Linked DNA regions of Homo sapiens: region 1 is linked to region 2. Evidence: fine-mapped expression QTL. A gene starts in region 2. The other region holds a variant in brackets. All regions are shown on one strand. Distances are between the middles of the regions. Region 1 overlaps WFS1 (wolframin ER transmembrane glycoprotein). Region 2 holds the start of WFS1 (wolframin ER transmembrane glycoprotein).

Region 1 (5,499 bases), 25 kb after region 2:
CGCTCGAAAGCCTTCCAGGCAGAGTTGGCAGGGTCAGAGTGGCACCGAAAGCCTAGGCAGGGCACACAAGGCCTTTGACCACATCCTATCCCTCAGGCATCACGTCCGAGAACGAACGGGAGGTGAGGCAGCTCTCCTCCGAGACCGACCTGGAGAGGGCCGTGCGCAAGGCAGCCCTGGTCATGTACTGGAAGCTCAACCCCAAGAAGAAGAAGCAGGTGGCCGTGGCGGAGCTGCTGGAGAATGTCGGCCAGGTCAACGAGCACGGTGCGAGGATTCACCCTGGGCACCAGCCTTCCCTGGGCGCCAGCCTTCCCACAGGAGCCAGGACCTTCCCATAGGGGCTGGGACCTTCCCTCAGGGGCTGGGTCTTCCCACAGGAGCCGGGACCTTCCCTGTGAGGACAGGGCCCTTCCTTGTGGGGACCAGGGGACCAGAACCTTCCTGTAGAGACCGTGCCCTAGTGGTGAGGTGTGTGGGTGGCATTTTGACAGCATCTGCCCTGGCTCAAGTGCTCACTCATTGAATAAACCAGAGGGTATTCTGCCCAGTGCTCTGTGACCACGTCTACCAATGGGACGGACTGTGTCCATCACCAAGTGGGAGCACGCTACGTGGTGCTGAGTCCACCCCAGCTACTGGAGGTACAGAGGTGTGGCCCCTGCTCTGCCTGCCCTGGGGGCCCTATGATCCCCAGAACGTAGGATGCCCCTGGAACTGGCGTGCCCTAGGAACAGTGCGCCAGTTTCTGGTGGGCTGCAGGGCACGAGGAGATAGTCAACTTGTCTGACTGTTAATCCACCCTGTCCCCTGCAGATGGAGGGGCGCAGCCAGGCCCCGTGCCCAAGTCCCTGCAGAAGCAGAGGCGCATGCTGGAGCGCCTGGTCAGCAGCGAGTGTGAGTGCAGCCCCTGCCCCGTCTCACCCATGCCTCCCAGCCTGCACCTGCAGGGCGACCTCTCCTTCCTGTGCGACTCCATCCTGGCCTGCCCTATCTCACCCGTGCCTCCCAGCCTGCGCCTGCAGGGCGACCTCTCCTTCCTGTGCGACCCCATCCTGGCCCTGCTAGGATCTCAGGCGGTCCGTTTGGGGCTCAGTGTTCTGGACGCTGGGAGTAGACCCTGCCCACCTGGAGCGCACGCACTGGAGGGAAGGCAGACCCAGGACAGAAACCATGATGTGCCAGTCCCTCTTGGACAAGGAAATACTGGGGGTGGGGACTGGCGGGGGGGTCCTGAGTGGGGAAGGATGAGGAGGGCATTAGGGGAAGGGGCTCCGGGCAGAGGGAACAGCATGAGCAAAGGCCCAGGAGACCCAGCAGGGTGTGGAAGGGGCTCTGCCCCAGCGTAGGCCCTTTGTAGGTAGGCAGGGAACAGAGTGGGCAGAGCCTAGGTTGGGGGATAGAGTCTCTGGGGCACACTGAGCTGGGGGTGCCTCTGGGATGTTTGTGGTCAAAGACTGAGAAGAGACGTCACATCCTCCACGTGCAGCTGGCCAGCCTCACTGTCTTCCATCCACGTGGGGTAGACTCTGCAGTCTGAGGCACTGGGAGCTCCTGTCCTGGAGAAGATAGACAGGCAGGAGGCTTGGGGGCTCAGTATCAATGGGGGGATGGGCCAAGACCCAGGTCTGCCACAGACTCTTCTTGTGACATGGGCAGGTCTCATTTTTCTTTCTGGGTGTCAGTTTCCCCTTCTGAACAGTGAGATGATCAGACAAGGGGACTGAAGGACCTCGCCCATCCTAGAAGCCTCTGTGGCATGTAGGGCAGAGTACAGGTGGGAGCACAGATCCCACCTTCCCACTGGGCCCGTGAGGAAACCGTCCATAGGGTGTGGTCAGAGCCCTCGCCTCTGCGTGGGCGGACATGGGTGCTTGCGCTGCTGTTTTCCTGCTCCATTTGGGGGAGACAAAGAAACACCTCACATGGAAGTGGGAAGAAATCTGTGACTCTAGGAAGCCCGAGGACCAGAGAGGCTGTGACAGTGTCCTGCCACCGAGGTGGCATGGTGCCTGCTGTCCTGAAGTGAGGTGCCTCTGGGCAGGAGCAGCCCAGCCTGGGTCTCCATCCTGGGGGGCACTGCAGGCAGAGTCTGGACCCCAACCTCACTTCCCAGTCCCACAGGGGTTTGTGATGAGCCGGGCACACCTGCTGCTGGGCCCTGTCGCTGTTGCTGGGGGCGAGTTAGGAGTCAGCGCTGCCAGCCTGTGGTCCCCTCCGCCAGGCCCTCAGGGACAGGGCCCCAGCACCCCCATTGTTTCCCCTCTATCAGAACGTTCCCATCAGGCATCATCTGTTTCTCTGCCAGCTTTTCCAACAGAACTCCCAGAAAGGGGCGTCTGTCATCCCCTTCTCTCGTCCTCCGTCCTTTGCTCTCAGGCCTCTGCCATGTTATTCCACCAAAGCGGCTCGTCTAGGCCATCAGTGACCCCCCTTGCTCAGTCACTTCTTGTCCTTGTCTGACTTGATCTGTCAGCAGCGTGGGCAGAGATGACTGCTCTTCTCCTTAGAGCCCTCTCCCCCACCAGGCCCGGGGCCCTTGCTGCCACACTGGCTGCTCCTTCTTGGGGTCCCTAGACTGATGTCCTGTCTCTCAGGACAGGACATCCTGCCCAAGGTATTCATCCCTATGAGGACAGGGGCCTTCCTTGTGGGGACCAGGGTCTTCCCGTAGGGACTGTGCTCTGGTAGGGAGATGTGTGGGTGGCATTGGTGACCACTCTCGTGTGTCAGACGCCGTCCTGAACCCGCAAGCCCCCAGCCCGCCCAGGCTGCATCCAGCCCGTGCTCCTTCCACATCTCCTGTACCTGGCTGTCCCATGGTCACCTCACAGCTCAGTCTACAGTGAGCTACTGAGGCCTGTGCTACCTGCCACTTGTGTGGGCCCCCCCAAGGCTGCCTCATCTCTTTGCTGCAGCTACACCTGGGTGCTGCCCCGACTCCTCTCCTCTTGCACACACAGCTGATCCATTAGGAGGTCTGTCAGCGCCCACTATCACGGCTGCCATCTTGGATGCAGCCTGC[C/T]TCCTCCCTAGGGTTTCTGCAGCACCCTGGCTTGTCTCCCTCTGCCCTGCCCCAGCATGGTCCTTTCTTTCCCATCCTTCCCCTGGAGGCCCTCCTGGTCACCATCTCACCACGGCAACTGGGGTCCTTCAGGGGCCTCATTCCCTCCTAGGGGATCATGTTGGATAGAGGGGTCAGTGGGCACGTAGCTCTCGCGGATCACGTTGGATGGAGGGATCAGTGGGCACGTAGCAGGCTCTTGGTGGAAGATGTTGGATGGAGGGGTAAGTCGGCCCATGGCAGGACGCATGTTGAATGGACGGGTTAGCAGGCATGTAGTAGGCCCATGGCAGACACTTGTTGGATGGAGGTGTCAGCAGGCACATAGTAGGTGTGTGGCAGATCATGTTGGATGGAGCGGTTTAGCAGGTGCACAGTAGGCCCTGGGTGGATCACGTTGAATGGAGGGGTTGGGGGCGCAGATCATGTTCGATGGAGCGGTTGGCAGGGTACTGCCCTACAGGGCGGCTTGTCACCCGTGCTGTGAGAAGCCCCACGCTGGCTGAAGAGGAGGGTGTCAGCATGCACTGGAGGTGCATGTTGTAAGGCTTGGCAGGTGAACTGGGTGAAAGGTGTGGGTGAGTGGCCCCAGGCATAAGGAGCTAGGCAGAGAGGGACACTTGGGGTGGGGGACAGCACACCCAGGGGCCGGGGGCCAGGAGTGGAGGCTGGCACTTGGCAAACCTGCCCCCTTCCTCCTCACCCAGCCTGGTCCTCAACCCTCAGGCCGCCCAGGGAAGGGTTTCCTCCACCTGAACCCACTCAGCTCCTTTCTTAGCTTGGCCCCACGCCACCGTCCCCAGCCCATTGCTCTGTGTGAGGGTGGCAGTGGGGCTGCAGTGTGGGGCGCCCATGCTGTTTTCTCTCATGCTTCAGCCAAGAACTACATCGCGCTGGATGACTTTGTGGAGATCACTAAGAAGTACGCCAAGGGCGTCATCCCCAGCAGCCTGTTCCTGCAGGACGACGAAGATGATGACGAGCTGGCGGGGAAGAGCCCTGAGGACCTGCCACTGCGTCTGAAGGTGAGTGACCAAGACCCCGGTCAGGCCGGAGCCTGCCTCCCAAGGACTCGCGCACCTCAGGCAGGGCACCTTCCAGGAAGCTGCAGGTGGGGAGGTTCGCGCCTAACAAAGAGTGTCTTACAGCCGTGCCGCTGGTACCTTTGGGTCATCATCTATCGTCATAAGGATGTGTCCTCGGGAGAGAGGCCTTTCTTTTCTGCGCCGTCAGGCTCAGAAACCAGGGGCGGTGTTGGGCAGGAGTGCTAGGATGGCAAGCAAGGGGCCCCTGGGTCTTTCTGTGCAGTGTAGGGGGCAGTGGGGCGGGCTGGACGCAGACTTTCATCTAGACTTCATCACTTAGCAGATTTCTCCATGTATGGTCCAGAGTGGAGGCCAGTGCCTTGAAGATGCCTTCCCCGAAAACAAAGTGCCGTGTCCGTCAGGCCAGGGAGGACGTGCAGAGGCGCCTACTGCCCCTGGATCTGCAAGGGCTCAGGGAGCGAGGCCAGTGTGGGAGCGTGGTGGGTGACACTTGTGCAGGGTGCCATTGGGCACACCTGGAGGACATGAGCAGCTTTGGCGGCAGGAGGAAAGCGGGGAGCGGGGAGCGGGAAGCCCAGCAGTGCGGGCCCTACTCCTGGCCTGACAGCTTGTTTTCTTGGCCATGTGGCCCTATGGCCTCTCACAGAGTTGCTCACAGTTCAGCTCGCATGGTTGAATTAGATGTGTGCCTGTCTCACTCTGCAGAGAACACCAGGATTTCCAGAAGCTTGGCCTCCTGACCCAGGATCCCCAAGCTGAGGCCAGCACAGGGGGCCCCAGCAGATGATTGTCACAGAGGCTGCGGGCAGTATCATGCAGGCACCCTGGGGTTCTGTCTTCTGAACTGACTGAGAACCTGGAGGAACTGCCATCATTGTATTCAGATGGGCGCGTGAGTCAGGGCCAGGACCAGGAGATGGTTGGGCCACCAACTGTCAGGCAGGCAGCAGGCTGAAAGGTCACCGTCCTCGAGCCAGGGAGAAGGTCAGAGTAGGCCCGCCCTCCGGTGGGGGGGAAGAGCAGGAACCCAGGTGCTGCAGGAGCAGCTTCAGCCCAAAGAGCAGCAGGCACAGCAGCCCTGCTGCAGGGACTCGGAGCCAGACAGGTCTGAGTGTGAGCCCCCCGAGTGCCCAGAGCTGCGAGTCCTTTAGGGTGGCAGGTGGAAGGCTCTGCTCCTCCCACTTGGGACAGGCTGTATGTCCAGGGTATGACACCGACCGGTCTGCAGAGGTTCTGAGACATGGGCCAGGATGGCCAAGAACTTGAACCAAGGGAGCACATGGTTTTTACTGATGGTCTGCTCAGAGCTGGCCCTAGGCAAGCATATTCACAGATTGGGTGCCATCATCTCCTTACTAATGGGAGATGAGGAAGCTGGGGTGCTGGCAT
Region 2 (5,000 bases):
TTTTAATAAGTTCTAGTATTTCTAGCAGTTACTGCTTTAAGTGTGTGGCTACTAGATTTTCTGGCTCATTCAGATTCATGACAATGAAATCTTTGTGGATTGTGCCTGGCACCCTTACATAATACCACTCTTCCCGTGAATGCTTTCCATCATGCGTTCTTCCTTATCAATAGTAATTTGCCATTTTTCAAATGTCTGCTGTGATCTTCTACTTCTCAATATTTTTGGTGTGTTTCTTGTAAATAGCGCTTAACTGGACTTTAGTTTTTGCCCCAATCTTACAGACTTTGGATGGGAAATTCAGCCCATTCACCGTGTTACGAAGGCGGGTAGCCATGGCTTTATTTATTTTATCTCATCTTATGTTTACTATTATTAAGCTTATTGTTCTTGCTATTATTTACTTTCCCCCTTAATTTTGCTTCCTTACTCTCCCTCCACCCCTCCCCCAACTTCTACCTAGTAATTCAGGAGTTCTACTCTGCTTCTTTCCCGTGAGTTGCTACTTTCCAATTCCTGAGAGTCATAATTCAACCAATCTTTCCCTGATAATGTATTAAAAGTAAATGGTAATGAAGCCCCCTCCCCACCACCAATAAGGCTTTCCTTCCCCAGCTGAGAGTCATAATTAAACCAATCTTTCCCTGCTAATGTATTAAAAGTAAATGGTAATGAAGCACCCCTCCCAACCACCAATAAGGCTTTCCTTCCCCACTCACCAAATCAGATCCTTTTACTTCCTCCTTCTCCCCTCAACCAAATGTGATCTTAAAATATTCTGACTTCTCTGTGATAAGATTCTATTTTTTTTTTTAGTTCCAGGCTAATACAACTTTCTCTTGAAGCATGTAGCTTATGTTTTAAGAATCCTTATGTGGCACTGCTAGTACAAAATCACAGGCACATGTGGATTATCCATACTGTATATTTTGCAAGGGTCATTGCTTAACACCACTTCCTGTTCTGAGCGTTTGCTCTATCTTGAAATCTCTACTGTGATTGAACTGTCTCGGTGACGGGGGAACTCTGAATATCTTCCTCTGAAAGGGGACATCACTGAGGTCCTTTCTCTGTCTTGCCACAGTGGATATTTTCTCTCTTTTGTCCACATAGATGAATCCTGTAGTAGCCATGGTAAGGATCCTTGATCCTATCATCAGAGTCCCTGGACATTGCTCCAAAGTCCCCTAGGAACCACTTCAACTTTTCTCCCCTTAGATGTGACCTGTTCTTTCTGGAACTCTGCAAGACCGTCTCTTTATCCTTGGCATCTGGGATTTCCAGGGACACGTTCTCCTGGCACTTTGCTCACCTCTGTTTCCCCTCCAGCTCTTCCTGGAGTACCTGTCCTTTGTGCAATACACCTCCTGGAACTGTCTTTCCAGTCTCTGCTTTTTGTCCTGATGATTTTCATGTGCTTTTCCTCTACATCATGAAGCATTTACTCCACATTATCTTCCAGTTTGCTCATTTGTCCTCACCTCCACTCTTCTCTTTCTGAATTTGCCTGTTGCTTTTTCAGTCTCTTAGCTCCGTGGAGTATGTTCAGTGTTGCTGTGTTCTGATAGAGGCTCCTTAAGCCATCTTGTAGATTTTTTGTTGCACTTCCTCTCTTCCCTTAGACCTCCACAGGAGGAACTTTTCAATCTGTCCTCTTCTCTCTGCTTAATGAGCCCCTGCAAAGGGTTTGGGAAGTGCTTCAGCCTCTCTGTGATTGTGTGTTCACATTAATATTTATTATTTTCTTAAATGTGCATAAATCTCACAATGTGAACAGTGATCATCTTTGAGTGATTTTTTTTCTCCTTTCTACTTTTAGTAATTCTCCAAATTTTCTACAGTTAGTGTGTGATAAGGTGGAAAGACATCTTCAAGACTTTGGGCAAATAACTATGTCTGAGCCTCAATTTTCACATCAATAAAAAATGGGCTCAGTGCCACCTCCCTCCTTGGGTCACTAGGGGGGCCCTTGAAAGCTGTGAAAGCCCCTAAGCCAACCTGGACAGAGCAGGCGAGGCTGACGGCAGGTGTTCTTCCTTCCTCTGTGAGCCTCACAGGGTCACACGTGAACATTGGGGATCGGGGGTGGGCAGTGGGGGCAGCTGGAGAATCAAATGAGGTGACTGACATGAACTACGCCGCTTTGACAAAAGTCCTCCGAAGTAGTGTGTTCAGAACTCATCTCCAAAGCCATCTGGAATATTTGCTCCCAACATGTTGGTAAGCATTATCTCTGACAGTCACTCCGAGCCCCAGTTTCTGCTGTGATAACTAGGACAGGTAGCTCAGGTTGGTTGTGGGGACCAGAGACAGAGCAGGCAGGGTCTCACGTTCCCCAGGGCCTCTCAAGGATAGACCCTCGCCCTCATCTCCAAACCACGCCTCCCAGACAGGAACCAAACTCCCAGAGTCTCCAAACTGCCTGAGCCTTGCCCACTCCCTGGGCTAACACACACTTTAAAGGAATCCCACAGTCACCGTGTGAAAAGCTTGCTACACTGCATTTGATTCTGGGCACTGAAAGCAGTACTTGGCTGCAGACACTCGTTTCAAACAGGCCCCATTTTTCCATCTCTGCTGCTGTTATTAGGGGAGCCCTTAGACTCTCTTGCAGCGCCGGAATAGGCGCTCAAGACGTGTGTTAATATTGCAACAGCAAATATAATGAATCTGCAGTTGGGGACGCTGAGGCCGGAGTGGTGGATGAAAGGTGGCCGGAGCCTTTTCCACGGGTCCAAACCACCTGTTACAGGAGAAGGCGAGCGGCCTCGCTAAGCAACTGGACGTTCCGCGGGCGGGGCGGGGGCGGGGCCGGGGCCCGAGTCCGCTCGGAAACTTTCGCTGTGGGCGAGCCGGACCCGCCTTCTGGCCCCTCGGGCCCAACCACGCAGGGGGAGTGCCGGGCCGCAGCTAGGCGAGGCGCACCGTGATTGGCGGAGATGTGGAGTGATTGGCGGCTACACCGGCCACTCAGCAGGCCGAGCTGGCGCCGCATCCGGGGGGCCGCGTCTGGAGTGGAGGGAGGCCGAAGGCCCCGCCCCTGCCCCGCCCCCTCGTGCAGAAGGCCGCGCTAGCCGGCTCTTCAGCAGCGAGTGCAGATTGCTCCCCCGCGGCCGCAGATCTCCCGTTTGCGCCGCGTTCAGCTGCTCCCGAACAACTTTTCTGCCGGCCCAGAGGCCCCAGGGCGTCGCAGCGCCGCGTGCGGCCCACTCACGGGCCGGTGAGTACTTCGGCGCTGGGGCAGTGGCGCGGTGGCTGTGGGCAGCGCGCAGGAGGCGGGCAAGAGCCCTGAGGCACTGTCCTCTTCGGGCCTCAGTTTCCCCTTCCGAGCTGATGGGTGGCTGGCCCCAAAGTCCCGACAAGGTCCCCGAAGTTGGAGGGCCGGGGGTCCCGCCCGCTCTGCAACGCGCAAGGCGACCCCTGTTCCGGGCCCGAACGGGTCACCCGGGGGGCGCGCCCCGGTCCCCCGCGCGCTGTCGCCTGGAGCCCCGCCGCGGGCGGGACAGCAGGCCCGAGAGGCGGAGCGGCCGGCGGGCAGGCCCCCTCCCCGCGCCCCGCGCCATCCCCCCCGAGTTGCCCCGTCATGCCCCTCCCCCGCGGTCCCGGGACCCACGGCCGCCCTCGGTGCCCGCCCGGCCGTTGGAACGCGCCTGGGCCCCCGGGAGGTGTTGTGGGGGGGAAGGGGGGTTCAGTCCCCCAGGGGGACCCGGCCCGCCCGAGGGGCAGCTTAGGGGTCATTCTGAATCCCCACAGCCCACTTAGGAGCGCTGTGGCAGTTCCTCTCTCTCTCGGGGCCCCTCAGTAGAGAGTTGAGGGGTTTCAGTGGCAGCACCTGGACCCTGCCTCGTATGAACTCCACCCTCTGGATCATTAGCTTTTTGTTTGATCAACGAAAACTTTCTGGAGAATCCTACCCAGCCCTTTTGGATGTGATGGCGCCCTGGCCTCTCACCCACTTAGCAGATGATGTTATGAATTCCAAGGAAGTCGCATTTGTGCAACCCCCCACCACCCAGATTTAACCCTCTCAGTAGCCTTAGGCGGAGAAGTTATAGTCCCCGTTTGACACCCCAGGAAGCTGAGGCTCAGCAGGGTTTGGTGCCAGCCCAGGACCACGAAGCTGATGGGGCAGAGCCTGGTGTGAGGCCTCTGCCCTATCTCTCCAGAAGCAGCCCCGTCTCTCCTCACCTTGGACAGTGACCCCTGGCATTTGGCCCAGGGCTTTGCAGTTTGTAAAGGGCTTTCTCTTATGCCAGCATCCATCACTCAAGGAGCTGTGCCCTGGGTACCCCATGTGCTGGCTGCCTGTTCTCTGCAGCAGGAGAGGGAGCCCACGGGAAGCCCAGAGGCCACCTTTGTCACTGTCGCCACCTGTTTACTTCTGTGTCCAAGGGTCTGTGATTCCCATGGGGTCTCCGTTGTATCCAACCAGGGATTTGGAGGGAGGCTTCTCCACATTTCAGCCTCTTTTCCCTACCTGCTGGTTTGTCCTCCCTTCGCAGACACAGGAAAAGTTGGCTGGGAGACCCCATCTCACCTTCTTTCCCAGGATGGAAGAGCATGGAGGGCGTCTCTGACTTAGGCCTCCCCTGCCCATCCCGGACCAGTGCTGGACAGGCTTCTGGGGCTGGTCACAGAGGGGACCTCAGCTCAGTCTCAACCCCCAGAGATGTCTGCACTGCCAGACAGACCCGAAACACCCATCCTTGACGGTGGCAATAAGAATCATAATAGGTCGGGAGCTTTATGCCTACACGGCTCCCCTCCCCTCCCACTTCCCTACTTCCGGAAGTGGTACCACCACAGCCAGCCAGCCCCAGCCACAAACCAGACCACCCCCTGTGCCCTTCATTCCTCACTCCCAGTTGGGTCTCTCCTGGCTCCTGAGCCTCACTCGGATGCCTGCCCTGGTTCAGGACCCTCGCCTCTCCCTGGACGACCCCCAGGCTCCTCCCTGGTCCCGATCCGGGCCTGGCTGCACGCAGCCCTGCTGGTTCTTC

The links.
Region 1: its variant is fine-mapped to the expression of WFS1 in blood mononuclear cells (TOPMed, PIP above 0.99).

What each region holds. Positions count from the first base shown.
Region 1 is chr4:6,291,101-6,296,599 of GRCh38, forward strand. WFS1 (wolframin ER transmembrane glycoprotein) reads left to right here. Exons shown (of 8, transcript NM_006005.3): 5 at 97-267; 6 at 817-897; 7 at 3,941-4,089. Among named protein-coding and RNA genes, the nearest start is that of WFS1, 24 kb to the left of the region's middle. The variant C/T (reference allele first, on the strand shown) is at 3,026.
Region 2 is chr4:6,266,795-6,271,794 of GRCh38, forward strand. WFS1 (wolframin ER transmembrane glycoprotein) reads left to right here and starts at 3,056. Exons shown (of 8, transcript NM_006005.3): 1 at 3,056-3,220. RefSeq lists a silencer at 3,034-3,143.